2 separate regions of the Homo sapiens genome follow, and region 2 is linked to region 1. The links come from fine-mapping of genetic effects on gene expression. A gene starts in region 1. The other region holds a variant in brackets. All regions are shown on one strand. Distances are between the middles of the regions. Region 1 holds the start of LINC02325 (long intergenic non-protein coding RNA 2325). Region 2 overlaps LINC02325 (long intergenic non-protein coding RNA 2325).

What was found. PIP is the estimated chance that this variant, and not a neighbour inherited with it, causes the effect.
Region 2: its variant is fine-mapped to the expression of LINC02325 in whole blood (INTERVAL, PIP above 0.99).

Annotation. Positions count from the first base shown.
Region 1 is chr14:97,449,491-97,465,841 of GRCh38, forward strand. LINC02325 (long intergenic non-protein coding RNA 2325) reads left to right here and starts at 9,326. Exons shown (of 5, transcript NR_110166.1): 1 at 9,326-9,437.
Region 2 is chr14:97,501,128-97,517,478 of GRCh38, forward strand. LINC02325 (long intergenic non-protein coding RNA 2325) reads left to right here. Exons shown (of 5, transcript NR_110166.1): 2 at 9,128-9,238. Among named protein-coding and RNA genes, the nearest start is that of LINC02325, 50 kb to the left of the region's middle. The variant G/A (reference allele first, on the strand shown) is at 7,488.

The sequences.
Region 1 (16,351 bases):
TGCAACTGGCCTTTATATGCTTTTTACTTCAAGTTGTATATTTATGCATTCTGCCCATTTTTTTTGAGATATTCATGTGTGGGTTTAATTTGTTGGATATTTTTGTGTCTAAAGGCTATTAATGTTCCTCCTGATATTTGTAGCAAACATTCTTTTGTTTTTTTGCATTGCATTTTAAATTTTGTTGATGATGGCATTCAACAGAGAAAGTTTTAAACTTTTATCTGGCCAGGTGTACTGACCAATTTTGTGAAGGGTTTTTTCTTAGTCCGTTTGGGCTGCTACAACGAAACGTCATAAACTTACAAACAAAATTAATTCATTTCTTACAATTTTGGAGGCTGAGAAGTCCAAGATCAAGACTCAGACAGATTTGGTGTCTTGAAGAGCTCTCTTCCTGGTTCACAGAAGGCCACCTCACTGTAACCTTACATGGTAGAAAGGTGAGAGATCTCTCTAGTATCTCTTTTAAAAGGACACGAATCTCATTCATGACGGTGGAGTCTTCAGGGCCCAGTCACTTTCTAAGGGCCCAACTTCCTAATACCATCACTTTGAGAGTGAGGATATCAACATGTGAATTTTGCAAGGGCATAAACATTCAGATCATAGCAGGTTATACCACGTGTTTTACATTTAGGGAGTCTTTTTACTGGCCCAGAATTTATTTCAGTATTCATCCACGTTTTCCACAAGTCCTACTATTTATTTATTTTAACTTTAATTTAAATATCACCTACCTTAGGTAGAAGTTTTCCTTTGTGTAATATAATATAAAACCGACATTTCTTGGGGGCATAATAGTAAAGATGTTAACATTTTTTGGTTCTTTTTGGATGCTGTATTTGTGCTTCTTCTGAAAGTGATGTGTGCCAAGATGGCTCATGTAACCCAGTTTTGACTAGGCTATTGATATTCTGTCTGGTTAATTTATTGAACTGGCTTAAAGCTATACATATTTTCTTTTAGTTAACTATGTAAGATATTCTAGATATATTGTCTACTGATTCATAATATCACTGGTAATGGATGATTAATGAGTACTCTTCTTCTTTGTATAACTTGAATTTATTTTTTCCTGTCTTATAAAATATCTGGAATGTACAAAACAATGCCAAGGATGAATGGTTGGGGCTGGAGCCCTTGTCCTTGTCCTAACTTGAATGGGAATGTATCTGGAATACAAGCATTGCATATTATACAGACTTTTGTTTAAACGCTTCAAAATATATATATTTTAAGAAATGGATGTTGAATTTATAAAATTTATTTTGGCTTCTACGAAGATGGAATCATTTATATAGTTTATTTCAACGTTGACATCTTAATGTGATGTGATGAATTAATCGATTGCTAATATTACGCCTTCCTTATATTCTTAATAAAATACCTGGGATTCTCTTAATGTGTATGTGAATTCAGTTAGCTAGTATTTGATTTAGGATAATGCCTGTGTTCTCATGAGTAATTTAGATACCTGGTTTTCTTTTTTGTCCCATCCATTGCTAGCTTTTGATATGGGTGTAAAGTGTCTTTATAATATGAATGAAAGATTTTTACATTATTATGTGTGCTCTGGATTAAATCATAAGTAATAATAATTGTCTATTATTCGAAGTTATATAGAACTAGCAAAATTACTTGGCCTAGGAGTCTTTTGGGGATATAATTATGTTAAAGATTTTTTTCCATATTTTCCCCATGGCTATAGGTTTACAAAAGTTTTCTAATTCTTCTTGGACAAATTTTTATTATTTCAACTTTCCGGAATTTTCCAATTCTGGAACCAAAGAACAGAATCTATGCAACAAAAAATTAAACAGTAAATAGAAAACTATCTATCTCATTAGATTTTCTTTACATATGTCTTTATGTAGGACTGCACATCTGTATTTCTAATTTATAAACTTATATTGTATCTAATTTCCCACATCCAATATGCATATTTATTTGTGACATTATTAATTTGGATTTAATAGTGGTTTATTTGTTGTGTTGTACATTTCTAAATACCAGCTCTTACATTTATTTATTAACACTATTTTCTCAGTCTATAATTAATTTATATATGATTTAACTGCATTTATTTTTTAGTTTCCCTTGTCATTAGATTTATTTTGCTCTTCTTGAGATGGTTTGTTTGTAAGCTATATATTTTTTTAATGTGATATTTTAATTTTTCAATTGTAGTTTTTCTTACTGTACTTACTGAACCGATTTGGACTTAATTCTTATGTTTAGTATTTAGTAGTTGTGATCTACACTTATTACTATTTGTCCTGAACCATGCTTTCTCTCTTCTTGAATTGTTTATTTTGATTAATTACTGAGTCATTTCAAGTATATCTGCAATCCCATTTTTTAACATGAGTATAGTGGTAGTATACTTTTTTTTATTTTTGCATAGCTGAGTGTCTTTCTTTTTCCTTTACAAATCATCCCTTTGGTGTAAAATTATTGAGTAATTTTCTTCTCAAAACTCGTTAGACTGTATTTCACTTTACTCTTGATATGAACAATTTTGAAGTCTGAGATTACCCACATTTTTTTCTTTTGTAAATAATCTGTTCATCCTACTGCCATTCTCACAATTTTTAAAAATAGTTTTTCCCCAGAGATTCAAAATTCTTTTCAGACAGGAGTTTCTTTAGAAAATGGTTGTTTGGAATAATTTGAGCCCTTCTGAGGAACGAACTCAGATATTTTCAGCTCTGAATTCTTCTCGATATATTTGATTAACCAGTTACTCTGTTGGCCCTGGTCATGTCCTCTGAAATGTCAGCTCTCTTCACACACTGCCTCTTTACTGTGTCTTCCATATCTTCATCTTCTCTCACATAAGTTGTATCTCTGTGTCTTCTTTCTCTAAATTAAGCATCAGGAAACATTTTCTGTGAAAGGTTAAATAAAAAATATTTTCAGCTTTCTGGGGCATAAGTCTCTGGTGCAATTACTCAGCTCAGCCTTTGAAATACAAAAGCAACACATAAACAAATGAGTATAGCTGTGTTCCAATAAAACTTTATTTACAAAAACCAGTGGTGGGACAGATTAAGCTTATAGACTGTAGTTTTCTGATTTTGCTCTAAATACCTGGAAGCCTTCTTGTTTGCTTTCTATTTACTGATTTAATTTTCTGCTGTATAGATTCTGTTCTTTGGTTCTCTAGACCAGTACCATGTGAAGATTGAGTGTGCAGGCTTAGGCTGCTTGAGCTTAAATCTCACCTGTTCCATTTAGTAGTTTTTTTGAGTTGGCCAAGATATTTAACTGCTCTGTGTGTCCCAGTCTCCTTATCAAAAAGCCAATGTGGAGACGTGTTTGAAGATTTGACTGAGCTAATAGATGTAAACTGCATAGAACAATGTCTGAGACTGTGTTAGCTCCCGGTAAGTATGAGCTATTATTGATTCTTTCATAATTTCTTTCAGATCCCTTCCTAAATTTCAGGCTTCATTTGAACCTGCTACGTTAAAAATAGTTTATTTCTTATTATGCCTCTTTTTTTATGTATTTTATTATATTTTAGAAAGAACACAAAGCAAATACCTCATAAAATGTTTTCCGTTTTTGACAACAAATCCCTTTCTCTGGTATGCTCTTCATCTATGTGTTTACAATGCTGGTTCCCATTTTTATACTTGCTTTGGGCATGGTTTGCTTTTATTTATGTTTATTATTATTTAAATAAGGATTGAGTTTCTCCTCACTATTATTTTTACTATTTTCAAAATAATCTTCTTGGATTTTAATCCAGAGGCCACATTGAAATGTAAAGTGTGTTGACAAATTTCAGGTATAATGCAGGTAAATGATCCTGTCAGACTCTGGCCTCAATTCAGTTTTCCTGGATAAAATTTTGCCCTGGGATTATTTGAGAAATCTATGACTCTTCTTATTTGAATTACATGCTGTCAAATTCATTGCTCCCAGTGCTTGTCTTGGAGTTTTCTTGAGTTTGTGCTTTCCTTATGTCTTAGTATGCAGAGTCCTCTTAGCTTTGATTCTTACTCCTCTTCATTATTTGGCAATGAGGAGTTTTAGCCTTCTAAATGGCTGCAGAAGAGGAAGGTATCAACGAGCAGACGTGAAACTGGGGGTAGTTCTGCAGGTTACAAAAGTACCCAAGGCCCGGTGCAGTGGCTCATGCCTGTAATCCCAGCACTTTAGGAGACTGAGGGGGGCGGATCCCTTGAGCACAGGAGTTTGAGACCATCCCGGGCAATGTGGCAAAACCCTACCTCTACAAAAAATACAAAAATTATCTGTGCATAGTGGCACCTGCCTGTAGTCCCAGCTACTTGGGAGGCTGAGGTGGGAAGGTGGGAGGATCACTTGAGCCTGATAGGTGGAGGTTGCAGTGAGCCAAGATGGTGCCACTCAACTCAAGCCTGGGTGACAGAGTGAGAACCTGTCTCCAAAATAAATAAATAAATAAATAAATAAAGGTACTCAAAAGGGTAGACATTATCACCAGGACTTATAATCAGTGGTTCAGCCACCAAGGTGCTAAAGGGATCTGCAGATTGCATAGCTGGAAATTTTCTCCTGTCTTCTTCTGCTAGTCAAGTTGTTTTTCTTCAGAATTCACCCATGAGTCACTGACAATCTTTTCTTGGTCACCTCTAAAATAGAGAGCGGGCACTTTATCTTTGAGATGGCTTTGTTTCCAGTGGCCATAATTGCTTTGGTATTTCGGTGTTTATGTGTGTTTCAACAGCACAGAGGGGCAAGCTAACTCAGGCAGAACTCCATGGCCTCCAGCAAATTCCCAGTATGTGATTCTTGGTAAGACAAAAATTGAATGGAAAGAACATGTGCTTTGGAATCAAGCACATTTAGCAGGTTATGAGGCTGATTCTGTCAGTTCACTGCATGACTTTGAGGAAATCATCCACCTCTTTAAACTTGATTCATCTTCAGTATAAAAGTTGGGATCACAGTGTCTACACTCGTGCTGTTGTAAATATTTAATACAATATAATAGTAAAGGTCCAAGCAGAGATGCTCATTAAATATTGTCAGTATTGATCCTTTTGCCATATGCTGGTATCTACAGAGAGAGGAAACTTTTGTTTCTTTTTTTTTTTAAGTCTATAGAAGTTTGTTGTGTAGACAAAGATTATTTATAATATGAAAGACTCATTTGTCCATCTGTAAGCATTAATATGAGCAAAAATACATTAGACTAAACCCTATAGAGTTAGTGGTATTTGATATTTTTACCACTAGCAATGGTAATGCCATATGGTTCAAATAAACGTAAGCAATTCATATTTATCTGTGTGTTTCTAGAATTGTTTTATTGAATGAATAAAATGGCATAATTCACTTAAAAAATCCAGAGCATGTGGTTACGCTAAACCTTAGGTTGCCATATAAGTAGCATGTGTGAGAATTTCTTTGAATGTAATGAGACCTAGAATGAATGTGTAATTCCTCTGAAATGAAGCTTCAGGAATATTTTTGGGAGTCTGTGGCTGAATGGACAAAACATAGCCTGTGGTTGAATTCAGACTCCACTACATATGTGGATGAATGGCACTGGGCACGTTCCTTACCCTCACTGAGCCTCCGAGTCCTCATTCATTCAATAAATGCTGCCACTTAGGCCTGCTTTAGGGATTGAGAGAAAATATTTCAAGGTCTAGTTCAGTGTCTGATCTGTAGCAGGGGCTTAGTAAAGGGCTATGACGCTACAGCACATTTTCTTGGTCATTGTAATGGCAGAGACTTTGTAGAGAAAGAGGAGCAGGTATTTTGGTGTCTTTAGAAACCACCCATAAGGTGAGAAAAAAAAATTGGTTCCTGGCACAAGAGAATTGAAAGAGTTCTTTCTAGGCCTCCCAGTGATAGATGAGGCCACGGCATTGTGAAAACTGTCCACTCTAAAGGGTAGGGTTGAGGTGTGAGGTAGACAACTTGTAAGGTGATTTCCAAGATCTCTGCCTCCTGGTATTCACATCCTTGTGTGAGCACCTCTCTTGAACGTGGGCTGGACCTAGTGACCCACTTCTAGTTAACAGGATATGTGAAAAGGGAAGGGATATCATTTCTGAGATTAGTTTATAAAAGATATGACTTCTGTCCTGAGTGCAACCTGTCTCCTGTTGTTTCCTTGCTTGCTTACAAGGATGAATCCTCCTGTCCTGTTGGGACCTGCCCTATGGAGAGGGCCATAGGACAAGCAAATGGGGATGATTCCCAGCTGGTGAAGAACTGAGACCTTTAGTCCAGCAGTCCTTGTGGAGCTGATTCCTGCCAGCAACCACGTGAGTGTGCTCAGAAGCAGATTCTGTTCCCAGTTAAGCCTTAGATGCCTGCAGCCCTTGATAACACCTTGGCTACCTTCTGCGGGAGACCCTGAAACAGAAGACTCAGTTAAGCTGTGCCCAAATATTCCTGACCTATGAAGCTGTGGGGCAATACATACTAGTTGCTTTCATTCAGCCACTATGCTTAGGGAGAATTTATGTGGCAACAAATGACATGAGGTATGTGTGGAAACAGAAACAATCCTTTTGTGTTGCTGTGGAGGTACAAGGTACCTGCTGTAGAGGCAGTCAGGATACAGCGTGGCTCTGAGACCTTCTTTCCTGGCAAACAGCTGGTGGAAGTCGAGAAAAGGGATCTCGCTGGGGTGGATGTTCCTGCGGCCTGGACATCAAGATCTGTCATGTAACATAAATCAGAGAAGATCAATGCTGCAGTTGTAGGGAGCTTTGCAGCACCATTTCCACCATGATGGACCTCAAACTTCTCTTCTATGGGATACATGGTTAGAAAACCACAGCTATGGAGGAGGAAGAGGGCAATAGAACCGTTTCTTGGAAGTGATGCCTCTCAAAGCCTAATTCTCTCAAGTCAAGCTAAGTCCCCATTCCTTCTGGTTTGTCTCCACCTTTCTCCTCTGCAGAGCAGGCTGCACAGGCATGGTCCCCCCCACATGCAGACATACCTCATTCCTCAGGTCTGCCCTGTTACCAGTTTTGTCGTGCATCTCGTGCTAAACTTACTTCTCAAATGGAAAGCTGCCTCAAGGGCAGGGTGGCACGGTGGAGAGGGCAGGGGCTCTGCATCTGACCTGTCTGACATCTGATCTTGGCCCTACTGGTTACTTGCTGGGCAGTCTTGGCGAATTTGTTTAATCTTTTTGAACTCTGGACTCATCAGCAAGAAAAAGGGAATGATAATATGTACTTTACAGGGCGGTTCTGAAAATTAAGCCAGACAAAGTGCTTGGGACGAGAGCCTGGGACGTTCTGACAGCAGTGTGGTTGTGGCTCGTGTCTGTGTTATTTTTCTGATTGTCTCCATGCAGGGTCACAGTAGGATTCACATGGGGTCACTTAGGCTCTGCCCTGGCCGGCAAACACTGCACTCATAGGTCCCCTCCTCAGAGCTCTCCAGCCCCAGGACAGATTGGGGGTGATATCAGGCAGGAGGACTGTGCTGGGATGTGACCCACTGGGAGGCCTCCATGTGGGACAGAGCCAGAGGCAGCACCTGGGCCGTGACACCAGTGCCTGGGGACGTGGTTTGCCTGGGAGCCAGGTGGAGCTGATCCTCCTTCTGGTGGGTGCTCTGTGCCTGAGGCATAGCTGGGCTGCAGGGGGTGGAGGACTCCTCATTCTGTCACTGCCACTCACAGGGCCTGGAGAGCTGTGTCTGTTTCTGGAACCTCTGAATCACAGCCTCCTTGGGTTCTTCTGAAGGCACATTGCACCTTCTAGAAGGGTATGACTCAGAAGGAAAGAGAGAAAAACCTCTACTGGCAAGAGGAAATGGCTGCAGTGTTTACTTTATCTGAAAATGGCACACGCTTTTATTAAGACATAAATGCCAGTGATGGATTCTGCTCTTGGCGTGTGGCTGTGCTCCCCAGCCCTGAGGTGAGATGGTCAGGAGATGTGAGACCCTACAGAGAAAATATTTACCATGCTGAGCTGTCATGAGACAGAGTAAGTGGGCAGAGGGCAGCTGGTTCCTTTGACCACCTCATTCTAGGGAAAATAAACAGGGACCCTGGAGCAGTCACTAACAGAGGGGAGCAAGTATCCTCTCTCTGCAGTAGAATCTCTGAAAATTCGGATAACGTTAATTGTGCCACTGTGGTGGCAGTGCAAGAAATTCCTGTTCATCCCGCTGCAATGATGATTAAGGTAACAAACACCCAGTCGGGAAGTCAGGCTCCGGCCCTGGAGAATAGTTGAGGATCGCCTGTAGCATATTGTTCCACTCTGCTGGCATCCTAACTAGACAGCTTTAGTTTTAGCATAAAATCCATATTCCAGACCTTTATGGAGCAGAGAGGCAAACTCCAATGCTGCCGTTGCAAGCATCAAACAGCATTAGAATGAATTAAGGAGATTTAAGACTCTCGATGCTGTCGGGGCTCTTCTCCATCCCCTCTGTTTTCTCCAAGGAGCTGTTTTAAAGGCGTGGGGGGCAAATTGGAAGAAGGGAGTGGGAAAAACGCAAACCAATCACGCTAACCTCGCTCCGGAATCGAAGTCTGACTCTGTACCACGCATGGATTTAATTGGGAGAGAGGTCTTTTAGAGACACTCTGGGTGGGTGCATAGATCAGTCTGGAGTTTCACAGTACGGCTTCTTCCAAGGTCAGAGCATGTGTCCAGGGTCTTCCCCGCTTCCTGGTGGACGGGAAGGCGTCTTCGGTCCGGTGGTTGACAAAAAATCCAAAGAGGGCGTCAGATGTGTGCACTCTGGTGTTTGGAATTTAAGTAAAATCTGTAATTTTCCTCCTGCATTTCCTCAGAGAAATTAGCTATTCTATTCACTGCATAAATTTTCAGGTTTTGCTAGCACGACACTCAGGGTGTTGAATTTTTTATGACAAAAATGCTGTAATAATTGTTGAACAGATGTAAGTGTTGGAGACTCGGCTCTGGCAGACCTCACGAAACCTCGATTAGCAATTTAACCCTGTCCTCCCTCCTGTCCGCACGCCGGGGAAGAGGAGTTGCAGTTTTGAATGGCTTCACTGGGATATGCACAAAGGCAGAGAAAGAGTTTTCTGGAGAGCAGGGGAAGTCCTTTAACGAGCTCTTATGCCCAGCCAGAAAAGGAAGAACTCGGTGCAGCCTAACCCTGAAATTACCACATTACCAAGTTGTCTAGCTGGGTGATTAATAAACTAATTGACACGGGGGACACTTGTCACTGGCGAAGCAGCTCCCTAGCCAAAGCGAGGAGCAACTACATAGCGTCTCCCGGGGAGCTGGGAAGTGACAGTCTACACCCGCTTCCGGGCTCCCCGTGACATAGGCCAGCCGGGCCTCCATTTACACCTCAAAGCAAAGTCACAGAGGGATCCGCCCCTTTCCTGGCTGCCTACACAGAAAGCAGCCATGGGAGACTTGCCGAGGACTTTGTCCACCAAGTGATGAAAGCATGCAAATGCCTCCGAATCAAAGGTAAATCAAAAGAAAATGGCAGCCCGCAAGAGGAGGCGGCGGTGACAGCCCGTCAGCCGTACAGCCACCCGACAGGCCTGGTGGCAGCGTGGAGGCTGCCAAGAGAACCGCCTGAGGAGGCTGCCGCCAAGACAGATGTCACGGCGAGGAGGGCGCGCTTCCGTCGCTTTCGGCGGGGCCTCATGGAGCAGGAAGTGGTACTACATGTGCCACTTAAGAGAATAATAATACTAATAAAACTGGGCGTTGTGAAGGGGGAGAGGTGGGGGAGAAAGGCTGGTTAGAGAGAGAGAGAGAAGAGGGGAAAGGCATGTCACAGTGTTTGGTAAAGGAGGAACTGAATTGATGGCCATCCTGAAGTTTGTGTGTGTGCGCACATGTGCGTCCTTTAGCAGGCTGGCTTTCCCTAGGCGCTTACAGCATCTTGAGAGGCATTGTGCTGGTGGAGACGTGGGGTTCTGGTGACAGCTGTGTCTTTGCAAGAGAGGAGAGGTGACCACAAGGCCACAGAGGTCCTCTAGTTTTTATAGCCCTCTTTTCTGCCTTTCCTGGAAATTGACTTTTGGTTTCCTGCCAAGATTGGGTTGCCCATTATACAAAAAAGCAGACTCCTGCTTGGGGCATTGCAGAGTTGCAGAGATGGAGGGAGACAGAGGCAGGTGAGGAAAGCCTCAATGTCTGATTTTCTCTGTGTCTGCCTCTGTGTTATTTGCGGATGGGTCGTGAGCCCCAGCCCAGCAGCCCACGATATTCGGACCTTAAGTACTGAAAATAACCTACTCCCCTTTTCATGGGTATTTTAAATTAAAATTAATATATAACAGGCCAGGTTTAGTGGTTCACGCCTGTAGTTTTCAGCACTTTGGGAGGCTGAGACAGGAGGATCGCTTGAGCCCAGGAGTCTGAGACCCACATGAGCAACGTGACAAGACCCCATCTTTACAAAAATAAGAAATAAAAAAAATTAGCTAGGCATGTTGGCATGTGCCTGTGGCCCCAGCTACTTTGGAGGTTGAGGTGGGGAAGATCACTCGAACCTAGGAGGTTGAGGCTGCAGTGAGCAGTGATGGCACCACTGCACTCTAGCCTGAATGACAGGGCGAGACCCTGACTCAAAAGAAAAACGTGAGTGTGTATGTGTATAATAATAATTACATATATATATATAGCCATTACAGCAAGAATGTCCAACATAACAGCTCTTATGTGTTTTTTGTATGTCAAGTTTTTCTAAAAATTGCTGACTTTGAGGTGAGACTTCTGTTTTACCTGTGCTCTGAGCAGGTGTTTGGGCTGCATGTTGGGAAATCCAATCCCAGAAATTGTGTAAAAAATAAACTATGTTTTTTTAAATTCTAAGATGATTAACTTTTGTCTAGGAAGTGATTGCAGATAGGTTCTTAGCCATAAATGTATAAAATTGTCATAAACCACAACATATTGATTTGATCATAAGAAATTCACTTTTCTAAATGTCCCCCCTCCTCTAAAAAGCATTTGGGAGTAATGCAGTCAATATAACAAAGAGTCTAAAGATATAATGTCCAAGTGCCTTGGAGGTGAAAGACCTTACACTTTATCTTATTCTTACCATTCCTACCCCAGCTGCATTTTATAAGCAGGAGAGTTGCTGGCTTTATAGTGTAGGAACAGTTTTAGTGCCTCTACCATTATCCCATTTTTGCAAATACTTCCAGAGGAAGTAATTCTGAGATTGCTGAAAATTCTCATAGGTGTAACTATGTGATAAGTCCTTCAGGGCAGAGAGAAGATGGGTAGAATTAGCCCAGCCTGGTGAAGTGTGAACAGGATGCCCATGGGTGAGAATCTGTCCTGGGTCCAAATAAAGCCTACACAGTTGGATGTGTGACCCTTAGCATCTCCGAGGCTGAATGATAACCCTCCCTACAGCAGCATGGCCAGTGTTAAAATGTACAGAAAGCTCACATTGCAGCAGGTGATGTCGGAAGGGCTTCATCAATATGTGCTGTACTGAGCATCATAAAGCAATCAGGCGCTGGTAACTGAAATCCTGGGATGGGCTCTATTTATAATTTATTGTACACTTAGTTTAAGTGTAATTATATATATATATATATATATATATATATATATATATATGGTTTTTTGTTTGTTTGTTTGTTTGGTTTTTTTACAAAGTTTTGCTCTTGTCACACAGGCTGGAATTCAGTGGCATGATTTCTCCTCACTGTAACCTCTGCCTCACGGGTTCAAGCAATTCTCCTGCCTCAGCCTCCCGAGTAGCTGGGATTATAGGGACCTGCCACCATGCTCAGCTAATTTTTGTATTTTTAGTAGCGATGGGGTTTCACCATGTTGGCCAGGCTAGTATTGAACTCCTGACCTCAGGTGATCCACCCACTTTGGCCTTTCAAAGTGCTGGGATTATAGGCACGAGCCACTGTGCCCGGCCGATATATTTCAAAGTCTAAATAAAATGCAATGGGAGACTGACATTCACTTTTAATACCATTTCACTAAAAGTTACCATTTAAGGGGATCATCCCTGTGGTGGTTCAACCCAGATGTTCCAGATGTTTCTTCCTTTTTCATCCATGATCTGCTGGTTCTCTTCACAGTAGCACTTTTGTTTTATTTTTAATATACTGTACATTAGTCTATCACTGGATAAGCATTTTTTTCTTGCAGCAAGTTCCTTATTCCTAAGAGCAAAATGTCCTCAATCTTTAAGTCAGAATTTAAGCACTTTCCTCTTCAAATATCTGTAAAAAAGATTGTCTTCTTCCAATTCTCTCTGTTCAAATTCATGACGTTCACTTTTAGGTTACCATTATTTTATTTAATGTAGCTGAAACATTTCAATCTGATTCCATATTAATATTTCCCTTTTTCAGATGAGGAAAACAAAAGCTCAGAAACTATCTTGGAGTCAGCAAGTAAGAAGGAGCTTAGAAAGGCTTAACATTTTCCATGCTTCTGCCTGGCTTCAGAGCCCATGCACTCTGCCTTACCACGGCAGGTGAAAGATGGCCCCAAATTCTTAGGTACATCTCCTGCCAAAAGACCCCTCCTATGGGTTCTGTGACTACTTCAATGAAAAGAATAGGGCAGAAGAGATGATGAGAACTTAACATCTGGCAGTGTCCATTTCCTGTCTTTTGAAACTTTCTGTTAAAGGCCTGAGCCACGTATGAAGTGTGAATCTTCACACCATGCAAGAGAAGCCACATGTTATTGCTCTGGTCAACAATCCCAGCTGACCCAACCAGATAGTGTATCAGGCATATGAGTAAAGCATTCTTAGATTCTTCAGTCCAGCCCTTCACCAGCAGAACACCATTCAGCAACCCTTGTCGGCATCATGTGGGACAGAAGAACCACCCAGCTGAGCCTTATCCAAATTCCTGACCACAAAATCATAAGGTATGATTGCTGTTTTAAGCCAAAAGTTTTGAGATAGTTTGTTAAGCAGAAATAGCTATTGATCAATTATCATGTATAATTGATTATAATTACAAAATGCCAGGACCCTGTTGGAATTGTCTGCTTCATGCTTTACTTTGTCTGAGTAGCTTTTGAACATCTCTGCAAAATCACAACCACAGCTCTTTACATTGTATTGATCTATACCTAGACTCTTTATCCATATCCTTTGTTTTGCTGCCAACAATTCTTGAGTGGACTGGAAAGAATTCACTGTCTCTGGCTCTTTGGTTGCAAGAGTAACTTTCAGGCTTCTGGTTTTAACAACATGGCAGACTGAACCAATAAGCATCACCTTCTTCATACAAATACACAAAAATACTGGAGAAGTATAAATTTTAAAATGAACACATAAACTCAAAGAAAGGGAATGCTTAGGTACTCGAAATGAAAGTTCAGTTTGCTGATACCATACTGTCCTTCAGAGCTATTGATTATAGGCCTTTGGGTCTGAAATTTCTTGCCTACAGAAAGACAGGAGATGCGGCTTTGAATCTGTATATGGTGGGAACCAGAACTGAATCCCCAGCATGAGACATGCACATTTAAAAGACCTGATAGACTAAGAGAAGCAGCGAGAAAGCTTTCTTGTGGCTTGGTTTCTGGGTAGGAAAAAAATGCCTCTCATGAGAAATCAGTTACAAGCTCATACAATGCACGCAGGGAGGGTCCAAGTTTACATTGCCCTTGTGATGTAAGAATTGAAGTCAAAAACACTAGACACAGGTCTAGCGTCCCTGCAGAAAGAAATGCAAAATTTTATTTTTAGTAACACATTCACAAACTTGGGCCACATGGAATTCTGATAGGTTTAAAGACAGAGCAAAACTAAACCAAAGCTCTTTGGAAGACAAACTCAATAGAAAATCATGAAATTGCACTAGGAAAGAAGATACTGAATAGGGAGTTAGACACAGCAAGCTGAAGAATGGGCATCTCAAGAAATAGAACTAATAGAATACTTTGAAAGGGACGGCAACATAAGTATATTTATATATGTAGAAGGATTTAAGCAGAAGGGTTAGAAAAAATAGGACAAAAAGAATTAAAAAGTAGAAGATGAATTTTCAGGTTGATCCAAGGTAAAAAATAGATCCCTGTATTAAAAAGTCCCTGCATACCATTAGTACTTCTGAATACAATGATTGAAATCTTGTGATTGCTCCAGGCTGGAATTTTATTCTACAGTCCTGTAAGGTACAGATCATTGGGTAAATGGAGAAAATTTTCTCCCCAAAGAGAGAATGACTTCTTTCATATCGCTGAATGGAGCAACATGTTTGGCCAAGTTCCTGTCCCAGGGAGGAGAACCTTCAGCTTGCAACAAGTCCTGGCCGTTGGAGAAACCATGAGACTAGACCTTGTGTAAAGCAGCTGATTCTGCCATGGGGGAAATGCCCTTTTGTTTACTGAGCTTCTCCCACCCATGCCTTGCTCCACTTTCCTCTAGAAGCCTGAGATATTGGGAATAAGAGTCTCAGCCTCCAAGAGATGGAGAACATATCAAGAGAGTCTGGATTTCTGGGGTGATTAAGTTCACTTGATTCATTAGCCTAAGTGCTCAAGTAAATTTCAAATCACAGTGTTATGTGTGATTGTCCACGTCCTTCCTCCAAACACTCCCCACCTCCCACCCAAGGGCCCATGTAACTTGCTATTGAGAACCTTTGATTTCTTAGGTATTTGGGTGATAGGGTTTTGTTGCCTCTCCTGAAGAAAATAGTGGCAATTTGTACTCAGCTGTGGAATAAAGGAAATCATGACATATCTTCATAGTGGATTTCCTATTTGATGGTTCCAGCCTATTTTCAATATCCACAACCTGCTGCACCCTAGGAAAATTGACTTCCTCCACTGCCACCCCATTCCCCAACCCCAGAGCTAGAATCTAGGTGAAACAGTGAGGCAGGGAAGCCTTCAGGAGGGAATGGGGCAGGGTGGGGGCTTGTCTCAGGTCACCATTCTCAATGTTGGCTGCACACCAACTTTCAACATCCCAAAGCCCAGGCCTCACTCAGACCAATGAAATGAGAATCCCTGAGGGTAGAAAAGGGCTTGGGATGCAATAAAAAATACGGAGTAATACAGAATGTGGGTCATACTTACAGTAAAAGATTATTTGTTGTTTATCTGAAAATCAAATGTAACTGGGTCAACCTATATTTTTATTTGCTAAATCTGGCAACACCAACCCATGCAATACTGCTGTTCAAAGCTCCCCCAGAGATAGCAACATGCAGTCGGTGATTTTCAAACTTCAATGTGTTTAAGAATCACCCCAATTGATCATTAAATACCAATTCCTGGGCCTACCTCTAAGAATTCTCATTCTGTTCTTCTAGGGTGGGGCCCAGAATGATCAATTCTAACCAGTTCCTGGGTGTTTCTCGGGCTGCTGGGACTCCGTCCACACTGCAAGTAGCAGGAGTGTGTTCCAGCAGATCTGGGCATTGAACTCAAGTCTTCCAACTCCTCCATCCTTCCCACTATGCAGAGATTGCATGGATTTTTGTGTGGGTCCTTTGGCTATAGCGTGAATCTGTTTTCCTAGGTTCTCCTGTTGGTTCTCATCTCAGATCTCTTGCTTGAGGAGTTAGTTCCCGGGATCTAATTGTATCTTATTAGTAATAAGTTCAAGTCAGATGCTAAAGCTAAAAAACCCCCTCCCCACACCACCACCATGATTGATTCTATTTAGGATCTATTATTTGCTCTGGCTATGATAAGCTGTCTGGGGGAATAAAGGAAACCTACGGCACTATCTCCACTCTTAAAGGAATTTGTTGCGTCTAAGACAAGAAAATTACATTTAGAGAGAGAGAGAGAAAAGGCAATGTGTATTCTTCTTTCACATTGGGAGTTATTTCCTGAAGAAATTAAAGAGATTCGGCAAAAAGAGAGACATTGGAGTCCAGATCAGAAGGAAGAGGACTGGAAAGAGGAGGGAAGAGAACAATTCTCCCAGAACCTTCTAAAAAATTACTTTTGTTTCCAGCAGTTTTACCTTTGTTCAGCAACTTATCAACAGTGTGATCTTGGAAATGTCACCTTAACTCCATAGCCTCAGTTTCCTCTTACGTGAAATAGTCATGCTGACACTAACTTTATAAGTTGGTGAAGGATTAGAGGTAATGGTTCTAAAGTGGTGGTTACAGTACCTGATGCTTGCAAGTTCCCAAACTCAGCTGCCCATGTGAGCTGGGTGGGCAATGTTGGTGAGCAGGTACATGATCAGGCCCGCTCCAACCCTTGGTCATTGCCACTGTGTTAGAAAACAGCCCTGGAAGCCTCATATTCCAGTTTTCTGAGACAAAATGAATTGTATTTTTGTGGCATCTTCCAGTTTTTAGATGCGTGCTCATTAGTTTCAGAAGCGTTCATTGTCTATGGCTGCTTTAGTGCTTTACAGTAGCAGAAGTGAGTACTTGCAACAGAGACCATAAGGCTGC
Region 2 (16,351 bases), 52 kb after region 1:
AATGTCCCTTGGAGGGCAAAATATTGAGAAGCACTCCTCTGGGAAAGGTTTCTGAACTCCTCAAGAAAGAGGCACTAATTTTGCACCCTGTATCTTTTGGAATGTGTCATGTCCTACCAGGTCTCGAACTTTCCTTAGGGCTGAGATGGATACTCAATGGAATCAGTCCATCTTGTCCCTAAATTGAGACACATAGATTTAAGAGACAGAATACATCCTCTCTCACCCCTGAACACCAACCCCTCCAGCCATTGTTTCTGCATGTATTGCCCTTCAAATTTTTCTCTTTGCTGCCTCTCTGAATCCTTGTCTGTGGAAGTCCTGCTAATTCACTAAGGTCCAGCTTCAATCTCATCTCTTACATCAGATAGTTACCAATCCTGGTGAAATGTGCTTTGCTATGATCTGGATGTCTGTGTGCCTCCAAATTTATATGTTGAAACTTTAATCTCCAAGGTGATAGTTTTAGGAGGTGGGCCTTTTATGTCATGCAGCAATGCCCTCATAAATAAGATTAGTGCCTTTATAAAAGAGCCCCTAGAGACCTGCCTTGCCCCTTCAACCACATGAGTGCTTCATGAGAAATCATCATCTATGATCCAGGAAATGGCCCCTCATTAGACACCAAATCCGTTGTCACCTTGATCTTGGGCTTCCAAGCCCCTAGAGCTGTGAGAAATAAATTTTTGTTGCTTATAAGCTATTGTTTATGGCATTTTGTTAAAGAAAGCCAAATAGAGTAAGACAAAAACTGGTACTGAGAAATGGGTAAGCTGCTGTAACCAATACCTAAAAATAGATAATTGCCTTTGGAATTAAAAGAGTTGTGAAGTGCCTACTAAAAAAAGCCTACATTCTTAAGAACAGACTATTAAGGATGATCCTGGTGAGTGCTCAAAAGGAGAAGAGAAGAGCTTTAGAGAAAGCCTCAAGCTTCTTAGAGAATACCTAAGTGGTGGTTAACAGAATGGTGGTAGAAACATAGATGGTACAGATCGTTCTGATTAGGTCTCAGACCAAAAGGAGGAAAACATTATTGGACAATAGAGAAAATCATCCTTGTGAAAAAGTGGCAAAGAAATTGGCTGTATTATATTTGCATCTTAGTGTTTTGTGGAAGATAGAATTTGTGAACAATAAATTTGGAAATTTGGCAAAAGAAATTTCTAAGCAAAATGTTGAAGGTGTGACATGGCTTCTCTTGACTGCTTATCCTAAGATGTGAGAAGGTAGAAACAACTTAAAAATAACATTTTTAATCAAAAGAGAAGTACAACTTAAAGGTTTGAAAAATTATCAGTCTGTCCCCATTGTAAAATTAAGAAAGCATGCTCTGGAGAGGACACCAAGGATGTGTCCAGGTGACCATTTGATAAGAAGATTAGTATGAATCAGCTAGGTGCTATTCATTAAGAAAATGGAAAAATGACATGAAGGCATTTTGTCGATTATTGTTGCTGCTTTTACTAACACAAGCCTAAAGTGCAAAGGCCTTAGAGGCAATTCGATTTAAGAGGAAGAGCCAAGGATGCCTGCAGGACATCAGCTTCCCAGGGCCACCTAAATACTTTGCTTCCTGCATTTTGGTGTAGTGCTCCTTGGATGACCCAGGTGTGGATCCAGTCAGCCCAGGTGTGGTACAGGCCACTGTGGCTGCCTCACCCGAGGGTACAGGCAGTAAACCTTGGAGGCAAACCTTGGCAATGTCCATGTTTTGCCATATTCATCAGTGTATAGAGTGCATGAGCTGCAGGGGTACGGCTACCTCCACTTAAATTTTAAAGAATGAAGCTGCCTAGAGCCTGGGGCACATGACCCAGGCATAGGACCATTGCAGAGACAGAGTCACTAAAGGGTCCCCACCAGGGCAGTGCCTAATAGAGATCTGGGGTGTAGCTGTCCCAGGACTCTAGACCAGTGGAGCTACTTGTCTGTGATTCTAGACTGTGGGAGCCACAAGCATGTGACTTCAACACATGAGAACTGCAGCATGGGCTATACTCAGCAAAACTGTTGGGGTGAGGTACACTAAAGCCATGGGAGCAGGACCACCAGGAGTGTTGGGGACCCAACCCCTGCCTTAATGTTCCTGGAAGGTGGGAACTCTGACCAGCGGGCCTGAAGGGCAGAGCGTTGAGTCAAAGAAGATTATTCTGGAGGCTTAAGATTTAATGCTGTTTGCCCTGTTGGGTTTTGAAATCTTTGTGGAAACTGTAGTCCCTTTCTTCTTTCCTGTTTCTCTGTTTTGGAATGGAAATGTCTATCTTATTCCTGTTCCACTATTGGAGTTTGGAAGCACATAACTTATTTGATTTCACAGGTTCACAGCTGGAGAGCAATTTGCCTCAGGATAAATTCTACCTTGAGTCTCATCCATATCTAATTTAGATAATATTTAGATGAGACGCTGGAATTAGGCTTTACAGTTGATACTGGAATGAGTTAAAAATTTTGAGGCCATTGGGAGGGAATAATGTATTTTGCCTATGAGAAGGACATAAATTTGAGTGGGGGGCTGGGGCAGAATGCTATGATCTGAATACTTGTGTTCCCCCAAAATTTATATGTTGCAATTCTACCCCAAAGTGGGACCTTTATGGAGATGATTTAAATATAGGCCTCTGTTTCACTAAAACGTATGTCAGTATGATTAAAAAAATGCTATGTATCTCATAGAATGTGATTCTGCCCTCATGAACGAAATTTGTGTCCTTATAAATATGCCCAAGGGACCTGGTTTATCCCTTTCACCATGTGAGGACAGAGCAAGAAGGTGGCCACTGCAACTCAGGAAAGGCAGTCTCATCAGACCTTGAATCTGCAGGTGCCTTGATCTTGGACTTCTCAACCTCCCGAACCATAAGAAATTAATTTCTGTAGTTTATAAGCTCCCCAGTTTATGATATTTTGTTATAGTAGCCCAAATGGACTAAAACATTACCTCTTCTGTATTCTCTAGTTGTCTTAAAAAATTCATTTTACCATTGATCTCAGTCTCTGTTCTAGCAGTTCTTATTGAATATGAGACAAGAATTTTTGTATTGAGATTCAGCATGTCATATTTATTAAACTTATGAACCATGGAGGTGAACTGCTCTGAGCATAAGTTCCCTCTTCAGAATTTATGACATGTGCAACTCTGAGAACATTGTTTAAACTCTCTAAGCCTCAGTTTACTCACATGTAAAATGAAAGCTCATAAGAATAAATACCAACTTCACATGCTTTTGTCCCTTAAAGAGATGGTATGTGGACATTGTTTAGTTGATATTCACTATCATTAAGACATAGCTGCCTGTTATAGTAGATTATGAAACCCTGGAGATCAAGGGATTTGTATTAGTCTAGCATAGTGTCTGGCACATAGTAGGTATCCAATAATATGTATAAAATTGAATTACAAATCTTTCTCAGGTTTAAATATTAGGTTGGTGCAAAAATCATTATAACTAGGCTCAAATACATCTTTATTAATCAAAGTAAGAACCTTACAATCAACACATTTTTGCCAATGAGAAATAAGTTTGTTTACTCCTGTAGGGTAAAAATCTGAGCTTCAGGATTCAATGAACTCTTGGAAAGCATTTTCTGCATCCTGCTGGTTGTGGAAATGTTTTCCCTGCAAAAAGTTTTCAAGATATTCGAAGTAGTGGTAGTCAGTTGCTGGGAGGCCAGGTGAACATGGCAGATGAGGCAAAATTTTGTAGCCCAATTTGTTCAACTTTTGAAACTTTGTGCAATGTGCCATTGGGTGTTGTCGTGGAGAAGAATTGGGTCCTTTCTGTTGACCAAAGCTGGCTGCAGGCATTGCAGTTTTTGATGCATCTCATCAATTTGCTGAGCATACTTCTCAGATGTAATGGTTTTGCTGGGATTCAGAAAACTGCAGTGGATCAGACCAGCAGCAGACCACCAAATAGTGACCATGACCTGTTTTTGGTGCAAGTTTGGCTTTGAGAAGTGCTTTGGAGCTTCTTCTCAGTCCAACCACTGAGCTGGTCATTGCTGGTTGTCATATAAAATCCACTTTTTGTCATATGTCAATCTGATCCAGAAATTGTTCGTTGTTGCATAGAAAAAGAGAAGATGACACTTCAAAACAATGACTTTCTTTTTAAATTTTTGCTCAGCTTATGAGGCATCCTCTTATCAAGCTTTTTGCCTTTCCAATTTGCTTCAAATTACAAACGACTGTAGAATGGTCGATGTGGAGTTATTTGGCCACTTCTCACGTAGTTGTAACAAGAGGATCAGCTTTGATGATTGCTCTCAATTGGTGGTTGTCAACTTCTGATGGCCGATTGCTACATTCCTCATCTTCAAGGCTCTCTTCTCCTTTGCAAAACTTCTTGAACCACCACTGCAGTGTAAGTTCGTTAGCAGCTCCTGGGCCAAATGTGTTGTTGATGTTGCGAGTTGTCTCTGATGCTTTACAATCCATTTTGAACTTGAATAAGAAAATTGGCCAGGCATAGTGGCTCATGCCTGTAATCCCAGCACTTTGGGAGGCTGAGGTGGGCAGATCACTTGAGGCCAGAAGTTCGAGACTAGCCTGGCCAACATGGTGAAACCTCGTCTCTACTAAAAATACAAAAATTAGCCGGGCATGGGGGTGCACACCTGTAATCCCAGTTACTCGGGAGGCTGAGGTAGGAGAATCACTTGGACCCGGGAAGCAGAGGTTGCCGAAATCACACCACTGCACTCCAGCCTGGGTGACAGAGCCAGACTCAGTATCAAAAAAAAAAAAAAACAAAAAAAACTTGAATTTGCTTTTTGTCTAACATTATTCCCATAGTCTAAAATAAATATAAAATAAGGAGCAAGTAATACGTCATTAGTGAAAAAACATGAAGTGAGAAATGTCCATTAAAATGATGTATAGCATAACTACATTCATGTAAGAGTGTATTCCAATATCTAATGGCAAATTTCAACAATGCAAAAACCACAACTACTTTTGCACAATATGACCCTGTTTCGCTAACATGTTTGTAACTGGAAGGAAAATGCTACCTACCTCACAGAACCACTCTGAGAATGGATGAAATAAGGTGTATTGTGGAAACAAATCAGCGATGGCCCCCAAGCCCCCAGCCCTCTGGTGCACATTTTCTGGCTAGCTCCTCCTTTCAATTAAATTACATTTTATGGAAAAAGGAGCTTTACAGATGACACTGATATCCCTCATCACTTGTATTAAATTAATCAAGAGGGATATTATCATGGGTGGGGCTGACCTGACCAGGGGAGCCCTTGAAAGAGACAGGAAGCAGCGGCAGACACTCTCCTGTTGGTCTTGAAGAAAACAGTCACATTGTGAACTGGCCATGAAGGGGGCCTTTTGGCAGGGATCTGGGAGTGGCCTCTATGAGCTGAGTGGTTCTTTGCTGGCAGCAAGCAAGAAAACAAACAAGGACCTCAATCCTTTAGATGCAAGATACTGAATTCTACCAATAACCATGTGAACCTGGGAGAAAATCCAGCCTCAACTGAGACTTTGGCCAGCAGACTGTATTAAAATGTACCCACAGGATTTTGATTTTGGGAGGTAATTAAATGATGACATGGAGAGCCTGATGCCATTGAAAGAAGAATTTACTACTTACATTTCCCAAGAGAAGGAGGCTTGCCACACCACAAGCCAAGTGGGGAAGCACCAGATTTGGTCAGGAAGCAGAAGGAGGAGCGAGGCAAAAGCTTAGACCACAGCCTCTGTTAGGACAGTGGTAGATAGTTGTTAGATGGCAATGTCCCCTATTGGGCAGAACTCAAAACACAGATGCTGTGGTTTATGTTGAGAGGGTTGTAATACTATTTTCATTCATCTGCAAAAACTGGATCACGGGGAAGATGTAAGTAACTTTGCCCATTAATTTGATTTTATGATTTTAATGGATGCTGATACGGTTTGACTGTGTCCCCACCCAAATCTCAATTTAAATTGTATCTCCCAGAATTTTCATGTGTTGTGGGAGGGACCCAGGGGGATGTAATTGAATGATGAGGGCTGATCTTTCCTGTGCTATTCTTGTGATAGTGAATAAGTCTCATGAGATCCAATGGGTTCATCAGGGGTTTCCACTTTTGCTTCTCTCTCATTTTCTCTTGCCACTGCCATGTAAGAAGGGCCTTTCACCTCTCACCATGATTCTGAGGCCTTCCCAGCCATGTGGAACCTCTTTTTCTTCCTAGTCTCAGGTATGTCTTTATCAACTGCCTGAAAATGAACTAATACAGTAAATTGGTACCAGTAAAGTGGGGCACTGCTGAAAAGATACTCAAAAATGTGGAAGTTACTTCGGAACTGGGTAGCAGGCAGAGGTTGGAACAGTTTGGAGGGCTCAAAAGAAGACAGGAAAATGTGGAAAAGTTTAGAACCTCCTAGAGACTTGTTGAATGGCTTTCACAAAAATACTAATAGTGATATGAACAATAAGGTCCAGGCTGAGGTGGTCTCAGATGGAGATGAGGAACTTGTCGAGAACTGGAGCAAAGGTGACTCTTGTCATGTTTTAGCAAAGAGACTGGCAGCATTTTTCCCCTGCCCTAGAGATTTGAACTTGAGAGAGGTAACTTAGGGTATCTGGTGGAAGAAATTTCTAAGCAGCAAAGCATTCCAAAGGTGACGTGGGTGCTATTAAAAGCATTCTGTTTTAAAAGGGAAACAGAGCATAAAAGTTCAGAAAATTTGCAGGCTGACGATGCAGTAGAAAACAAAAACTCATTTTTTGAGGAGAAATTCAAGCCAGCTGAAGAAATTTGCATAAGTAGCAAGGAGCCTAATGTTAATCCCCAAGACAATGGGGAAAATATCTCCAGGCCGTGTCAGAGAACTTCATGGCAGTCCCTTCCATCACAGGCCCAGAGGCCCAGGAGGAAAAAGTGGTTTTGTGGGTGAGGCCCAGGGTCCCCTTCCTATGTTCAGCCTAGGGACTTGGTCCCCTGTTGTAGCCACTTCAGCTGTGGCTGAAAGGGGCCAATGTAGAGCTTGGTCTGTAGCTTCAGAGGGTGGAAGCCCCGGGCTTTGGCAGCTTCCACATGGTGTTGAGCTTGCGTGTGCACAGAAGTCAAGAATGGAGGTTTTGGAACCTCTGCCTAGATTTCAGAAGATGCATGGAAACGCCTATATGCGCAGGCAAAAGTTTGCTGCAGAGGTGGGGCCCTTATGGAGAACCTCTGCTAGGGTAGTGCAAAAGGGAAATGTGGAGTCAGAGCCCCTACACAGAGTCCCTACTGGAGCACTGCCTAGTGGAGCTGTGAGAAGAGGGCCACCATCCTCCAGACCCCAGAATGGTGGATCCACTGACAGCTTGTACCATGCACTTGGAGTAACCGCAGACACTCAACACAAGCCTGTGAAAGCAGCCAGGAGGGATGCTGTACCCCGTAAAGCCACAGGGGTGGAGCTGCCCAAGACCATGGAAACTCACCTTTTGCATCAGCATGACCTAGACGTGAGACCTGGAATAAAGGAGATCATTTTG[G/A]AACTTTAACATTTAACTGCCCTGCTAAATTTTGGATTTGCATGGGCCCTGTAACCCCTTTGTTTTGGCCAATGTCTTCCATTTGGAATGGCTATATTTACCCAATACCTGTACCCTCATTGTATCTAGGAAGTAACTAGCTTGCTTTTGATTTTACAGGCTCATAGGCAGAAGGGACTTGCCTTATCTCAGATGAGACTTTGGACTGTGGACTTTTGCTGAAATGAGTTAAGACTTTGAGGAATTTTTGGGAAGGCATGAGTGGTTTTTAAACGCAAGAACATGAGATTTGGAGGAGCCGGGGGTGGAATGATATGGTTTGGCTGTGTCCCCACCCAAATCTCAACTTGAATTTTATCTCTCAGAATTCCCACGTGTTGTGGGAGGGATCCAGGGGGAAGCAATTGAATCTTGAGGGCTGGTTTTTCCTGTGCTATTCTCATTATAGTGAATAAGTCTCATGAGATCTGATGGATTTATCAGGGGTTTCCACTTTTGCTTCTCTCTCATTTTCTCTTGCCGCCACCATGTAAGAAGTGCCTTTCACCTCCTGCTATGATTCTGGGGCCTCTCCAGCCATGCAGAACTCTAAGTCCAATTAAACTTCTTTTTCTTCCCAGTCTTGAGTATGTCTTTATCAGCTGTGTGAAAATGGACTAATATAGATGCCAAATAAACATACTATTTATGGCAACAGAAAACTGAAATCTTGATTTCAGCATATGCTATCCTGAGTGGAGAGCTTAGCTGCACTGTGCCTGGACCCCTGGCCTACTGAAGCTGTGAGATAATAAATAGGAATTGTAAGCCACTATGTTTGTGGCCATTTGTTACACAGCCATAGAAAACCAATACATGTACATAGAGCTGACCTATCCCCAGCATAGACTAAGTGTGCAATGAATGATCTTTTTTTTTTTTTTTTTTTTGCCTTCCTCTTCTTCCTCTGTCTTCTTTTTACAGAAAATGCAAAGCTTACTCTACAAACTCACATGGGGGTAGAATACAGCTATACATATTTTTTTCCTCCTAAGACTAATTTCTCTTTTGGGCAATTCAATTTCAGTCAATGTAGAGAGCCTCTCTTCCTTCCAGCCTCTGTTCTTTCTCAGGTTTGGATGTTCTCCTTGCATCTTACTTGATTCCATGGATGGGTTCTACCTCTTGTCCACTCAGTTTCAGGGGAATCTTTCTGTGGTCAGGCTGAGTGCAGAGAGTTGGTGAGGCTGACCAGGGCCCTCAATGAAGGCCTAGATATTCCACGAAGCCGTTTATTCTCTGGAGTTCCACATTTCCCTGGAGTTCCACATAGAAAACAGGCCCAACTTGTCTCTATTTTCAGATTCCATAAACCTAGGTGGGGGTTGGAGGCATAGTCCCTTTTCTTGTTTTTGTTTGTTTGATTGTTTTAACAAACATTTTATTCTGGAATAATTTTAGTTTTATAGAAAAGTTGCAAAGATAATATGGAGAATTCCCATATACCCTTTGCCAAGTATAACTTTCCCTTAATGTTACATTTCTCTAGTCTATTTTTCAGAAGTAAGACACTAACATTGGTAAATTACTATTACCAAAACTCTAGACTTTACTTGAATTTCATCAAGCTTTTCTTTAATGTCTTTTTGTTGTTGTTGCAGAATTCAATCCACGTTACTCCATTGCCATTTGTTACCACGTCCTTCAGTCTCCTCAATCTCTCAGTCCCCTTATTTTTCGTGACCTTGACAACTTTGAGGAGGACTCATCAGGTATGTTGTAGAATGCACCTCAGTCATGGTTTGTGTGAGATTTTCTCATGATTAGACTGGGCCTATGGATTTTTGGAGAGGAGACAACAAAACTTAAGTGCCCTTTTTATCCCATCAGAGCATGGGGCACATGGTATCTACATGGCATCACGGATGGTGCTGACCTTAATCACATTGTCAAGGTACTGTTTGCACTAAATAAAAAGCAGTGTCCACATCTTTATCTCTCCCTCGCATCATCCTTCCTTCCTTCTCCCCTTAGGCTGAGGTCAGGAGACAAAAGAGGGAGAGTTGTAACTTCTTCAACCCTTCATGCTTTTGTTTATTTCACTGTTTCCCTAAGGATCTGGGCTTTTGGAAGACAAAAGCCAGAGAAATACAAGCAGCATATTATATTCTGGCCTTGATGTTCTCTACCTCTGAGGCAATGAGCACAAGAAAAGTCTGGCTGTTCAAAGAGGGTTGGGGAAAGAATTTTCAGGAAAAAAAAAATTTTTAGTTTATATTTCAGAAATATTATTCTGCCACATTTTGCTTGAAGCTCAGCCCAGGGTTTCCACTGCAGCTGCAGTTTCAAATATACTGCCCCATTATCTCTAGAAGGTTTTTTTCACTTATTAGACATGCTACCCAAAGTTCTATTGTGCAACAGAGTTAAAGGGCCTGGAGCCCTTGCAAAATTTAGGACGTATGGAAAAAGCCAAGGTTACAGCTGACACCATCCTTAAATATTGGCTCAACAGACAACTTGCCTTGAGATACATGAAGAGGAGTTAACTGCACTTAAGTAAAAATTCAGAATTTGGGCAAAAACACATTCAGAAAGAACATGTTGGAGATATGGTTGTATGCAGACAAAATGATTCTAAAACACTTATTTCCCAAATTTCTTATTTGAGAGCCAGTTTGACTAATTTTGGGAAGAATCTATAGTGTGCACTAAGTTCCTTCCATTTTCCTACTGGCCTGATAGAACCTTCCTGATTCTTCGTTGACCCTGCAGCTCTAGCTACAGTGATTGGCTAAATGGTGGGCACCTGACTGGAGTTGGACTAATCATAGCTCCTCACATCCCTGGCCATCTGATTGGTTGCTTGTGAACACATGACTCAGACTGGGCCGATCCGAACCCCAGTTGAGCATGGGGCATGTAAGTAGGAGGAAGGGAGAGAGGGAAAGGACTCTGATCTCTAAACAGTGAGGATCTGAGCCCAGGAGTTGCTGGTAGCCATGGTTTCAACCTCATAGAAACAGATATTCTAAGGCCGTGAAGTTAATGTGTGGGGAGAATCAGGTAGAGATAATTCTGATGCCCTCCCCACCCTTATTATGCCTGTACCCATGGACACCCTACATTTGGATTATGAGCCACTGATCCTCCTTTCTGCCCAAGTGAGTCTGTGTTACTTTTCTCTTGCTTAAAAACAAAGTCAGTCTTGACTAAGAAAGAGTTATGTCTCACAATCAGGGCAGTGCAAGGCAGGGGAAGAAGAGAAAGCTCTAAATGCCCCACCTCAGAGAGTCTTGGGTTCAAATGTGATTCCCTGATGCTCCATTGATTATCTGTGCGATCTTGGGCAAGATACTCAACCTCTCTGGGCATTAGTTTCTTCATCTACACAGTGGGAAAATTAGGAGAATAAATAGTCTTCTGAATCTGTAGGATGTGGATTGGTAATTTTTTTCCTCTCCCTCATCACTATTCAGAAACATTGCCTTACATCCAGTTTATTAAGTCCATACTGCATAATTATTTTTGTTTGAAATTCTTCATTCCACCAACATACATTGGAGTTGCTCTATCATGGTGTCTTCTCCCCTGATGAAGGCATGTGTTCCAGGGGTGAGCAGGTGATGCAAGATAGGACAATCTATGTTCATTTCAGGGTTTTTCCTAGAGGAAAAGAGGGCTTTCCTTTTGGGACATGGAGCAGTTATCTCCCCTGATACGTGGAGGAAGTCTGTATCCAATAGGAGAGAAGGCGCTGAGCAGTGAGAAACAAAGGAAAGAAGGATGGCAAGATAAAATGAATTTGGTGACATGGAATATTGATGTGACTGAATCCACCTTAATGCTGAGCCAATAACATACTAAATCTATACATTTTTTTTTTCTAAAAGCTACTTCATATTGGGTTTCTGTTACTTGCACCTAAAGAAGTCCTAATAACAGCATATTTTATTCCTGCCTTGAACATATTTTCTGATGTGTCCAGAACAGTCTCATTTTATGTCTGTTATTCTGGTGTAGTTAATAATAATAACTAACTTAACTCCCAAAAGTACCCTGGTTTGGTTGATAAATTTCATATTACTTAACCCAATGTACTTGCCCCAAAACAAGTGTTCATGAGGGCAGGGAGAGCCACTTATTTGGAGAAAAGCAAAGGTGGAAGAAGATCAGGAGAACCAATAGGAATATTTTTATTGTGGGTTTTTCTATGTGTCTTTTATTTTTTATGGCTTCTTTCTGTGCATGGAACAAGGTGTTATTTTTTGTCTCCCAGTGGTGAAAATAATTCCAAACAAAAATGATAAATACCAGACTCAAATTGGAAGTGAAAGGATCCAGAAGATGGTACTTGCTGAGAGTAATGGAACAGGGATGGTGCCACAAGAGTTCTTGGGGAAGTTTTGAAGAAAGCAAAGATGTTTTGGGGACATATGCAGTCTGCAGTCCTCCACAGAGACTGGAGCCCAGCATTTTGAAAAGAATGCCAATTGGAAGAATTTGGAATAAAGAATTACTCAGAAATAGAAACTGTTTTGGCAGGGTTGAAATGTTATATCAGTACAGAATGATTTCAAATTAATGGGCAGAATTCAATTTTGTTCATATGCATGCTCCAGTTTGGGAAGGGAATCAAGTGGAAGGGATATATGGGGGCTTTGAGAGACATTGAGTTCTTAGACAGTTCTTCCTTCCCACAAGTTAGAATTTAGAGACGAGTGTGGCCAAACACTGTGGGTGTGGTAAAAGTATGTGTGAGTTCAGACAATGGCAGTGACTGGCAGGGATGCTCTTGACCAGGACTAGGTCTATTACTTGAGATAATATAAAGTCTGAATTATTTCCCAGCCCATGTCATAATATCGTGGGGCTTAGACCCTTCTAAGGCTGCTTACCTTGCCAGGGAAGTGCACTTCCCCCTTGTAAGTATGAGATGGCAATGAGAATCCTGTGTGTGTCTGTATTTATCTGTATCTATATCCAGGTCTATATTATCGGATAATATGCCTACACATTCAGACACACATAGAGCCCCCAGTTCTGTTCCCCAAGCACTTACTAAGGACCCACTCTGTGCTGGAGTCTCTGCTATGTTTTGGGGATATAGTGAGGGAAATGTCTTACAGTCTCCTTCATGTGTTTACTATTTATTAATGCCAAATAGAGAAATAAAAATGCTGTCACATTTACAGAGCCCTTTGGCATTTGTGAAACACATTCACATCAAACAGCGCTGTGAATACAGCAAGAGCCATTCCCCTTATTCTACAGATGGTGAAGTCAACTCAGAAAGACCAAGTGACAAGTTCAAGGTCACACAGCCAAGACTAATCCACAACTCTGCCTCCTACATCTTCTTAAGTCACGTTTAACTATCTCGTATTTCTGTTTGAAATATTTAATTCCAGTAAGTGGGGAATTCTGAGTGGATACCGTGAAGTAAACCCATTTTCAGGCTTTATACCACGAAAACACACATGGACAAAAAGGCAGCATAAATCTCCTTGACTTGTGATTTAATATTGGGACTCCAAGCCCCGGGGAATATTTTCATTTGATTTCTTGCTCCCTTATGCTATAAGAGAGTATTTTTAGAGGGTCAATAGCCTGGTTTAATCTATCATCTCCTTCCTTCCTTCCTTCCTTCCTTCCTTCCTTTTTTCCTTCCTTCCCTCCTTCCTTTTTTCCTTCCTCCCTTCCTCCCTCCCTTCCTTCCTTCCCTTCCTCCCTCTCTCCCTCCTTCCTTCCTTTTTTCCTTTGTTTCTCCTTCCACCTCTTCCTTCCTCCCTCTTGCCTGCCTGCCCTCCTTCATTCCTTCCTCCCTCCCTCCCTCCCTCCTTCCCTCCTTCCTTCCTTCCTTCCTCCTTTCCTTCCTTCCTTCATTTACTTGTTAACTCAACAAATACTTATGTCCATTCCTCTGTGACAGAAACTATACTAAGGGCCAATAATTCAGAGACAAATTAAATTCATTTGCTGCCCTTGAGGGGCTCACAGTCTTGTGGTGAGACAGAGCATCCACTTGGGAGACTGTGATCAACGTTCACCAAGGCTTGGACAGATAGTTAGGAGAATTGACCACATCCACTGACAGACCTCACAGAGGGAGCAGTGGGCATGGCCTTTGGGAGGAGACATTGGAAGGGCCCTCCCAGCCTGGGTAGATGTCCACACCAGCAGGCGAAGCTGCTGCAGAGTGCCCTCAAGGGAGTAATCCACTCCCAGGATGGAGGGGCAGGCCTGCCAGGAGGGCTTCAGGAAGAAGGAGTGCACGCCAGTGGCCTCTAGTCATGCAGGCCTGAACTGGCTGCTGAGATGTGCAGAATGATTCTTCCTGATCCAGTGGGCACTGGAACTTTCAGTGGGCAGGCGGGCTCTCCTGGAGAGGAGGCTGCCCTCCATCTGAAGTCCCTGCTCTGCTCTCCTCTGTCTCTCCCACGCGTCCCTTCAGGCCTTTCATGCACTACCCAAATGTCTTAGGTGGGCTGCACCTCCCTGGAATGGGCTCCGGCCTCCTCCCTTAGCCCTTGTATTAGTCAGCTCCAGCTGCCACAACAAAAGTACCACAGACTAGGGACTGAGGAAAGCATTTATTTTTCATCATTCTGGGCTGGAACTCTAAGGTCGAGGGGCTGGCCTAGTTGGTTTCTGGTGAGGGCCACTTCCTGGGTTTCAGTCTTCTTGCTGTGTTCTCATACAGGTGAAAGAGAGAGACCACCCTCCATCTCTGATGTCTCCTCTTATAAGGACACTAATCCTGTGGGACCAGGGCTCCACCCTCACAACCTCGTTTAATCTTAATTACTTCCTTACTGCACATACAGCCACACCAGGCCTCAAGGCCTCCACAGGAAAATGTTCAGGGGATCCACTTTAATTTTATTATTGTTATTATTATTATTTTTTGGGACAGGGACTCACTCTGTCACCCAGGCTGGAGTTCAGTGGTGCGATCTCAGCTCACTGCAACCTCCACCTCCTGGGTTCAAGCAATTATCGTGCCTCAGCCTCCCAAGTAGCTGGGACTACAAGTGCCTGCCACCACGCCCAGCTAATTTTTGTATTTTTTTGGTGGAGATGGGGTTTTACCACATTGGCCAGGCTGGTCTCAAACTCCTGACCTCAAGTGACCTCAAGTGATACACCTGCCTCAGCCTCCCAAAGTGCCAGAATTACAGGGATGAACCATGGCGCCCAGGGGATCCACTTTAGCCCCGAGGAGCAGCCATCTCCTCACAGCACCTGGCCCAAGCCCCTTCTCACTCCTGTCACTGCCCTTTCAGCCCCATACTCTCAGATTCAGGATTTGTGGATGGGGTCTGGTGCTGGCATTACACACACACACACACACACACACACACACACACACACACACACACACGCACAGTTGCTTGAGTGATTGTTTGATAAAACAATACACATACCTGGTACAAACTTCAAAACACATGAAAATGGGATGAACAGTAAAATGTGACTGGCTCCCCCTCACATCTCCCAGCCACCAGTTTCTTTGATACAGAGAAACTCACGGTTTCTTGTGTATCCTTCCAGAAGTGTCCTATCACTGTTCAGCCTTTCACCGAGTGGATATTTCAAGCTAGTGGCAGCACAGGGTCACACTGCTCTCCATCATGCCTTTGGTACGGATCCATCTGTCATCGAGAGCATCGCTATCTGTAAGAACAGAGCTGCCCCATTTTAATGTTCCATTCTAGGGCTATCCCAAAGGATATTTAACTAGAATACTTGTGATAGGCATGACTTTATTCCAAGTCTTGTGGAGGAAATGAATATGCAAACTCCTTTGGTAATTCTGTTGTCCACTGAAGTTCAAGAACCTCTTGCACAGTCGAATGCCAGCTCCTTCCTTTGTCTTCCTGAATTTCCCACAACCCTCCCCCTCCTCAGTTCCTACACCCAATGGCTGACTTCTACAGTCATCAAGCCCCATAGTAGCTGTGGCTTCTTCTGGCTCACTCTCCTCATCTTTGGAACAGGGGCAATGCACTGCCCACTGCTGATGAGGTTTGAAAGAACTAAATGGGTTAACATCAGCAGAGATCTCAGAACTTGGCCTTCACATAGTAAGAATTGGGCAGATGTAAGCCATTTCCCCCACTGCTATTCTTACTCCCCAGAAATGTCCCACATCCAGGAGGCTGAAAAACTGGGTACTATTTCTCTCCACCTCTTGGAAATACTGAGATAATTACATTTCTCTTGGAAAATATCAGGTGATCTGCATTCACTGGGGAAATGGTGCGTAAACTGATCTCTCTTGCCTTTGCTATGAAAGTCATTTGCAGGTAAGAACCCCAGGATTTGGAAGCAGAATTTCTGTATTGACACAACTATTGGAATTCCTTCTCCAAGATTCAGGTGGGATGGGATTCAGGAAGCAAAGCTGCCACTGCAGCTTCCTCCTTCCATAGTCCAGGTGACAGAAGCGACAGCTTTCTTCTTCCCAAAGGGGAGGAATCGCAGAGATGCCAACTCTGCCGCTATGTAGGCTTCCCTGAGCCCCAGACTCCTGAGTTTCCGGAGAGGGAGCTGCGAAATTCTGGGATCCTATTCAGAGCACTTGTGATGTGCTCAGAGATGATATTAAATGTTTTATATCATTTTGGCCATGATACAGACACATTTGCCTCTGATTCTGAAGAAGCTCAGCATTTCATTAAGTCATTCCTCACTTGATGCACCCTCCTTCCCCAACCCTCTTCTTTACAAATTAAGAAAGAAGCCAAATTTTTTTATTTCTGCAACACTGTAGGTGTGTGTCCTCCATCACTATTTCTTAACAATGTGTGCATTGAACATATAGGTGTTCTCAAGGAAATCAAATATTATACATTTTATACTTTAAAAATAAGACTCTTCTA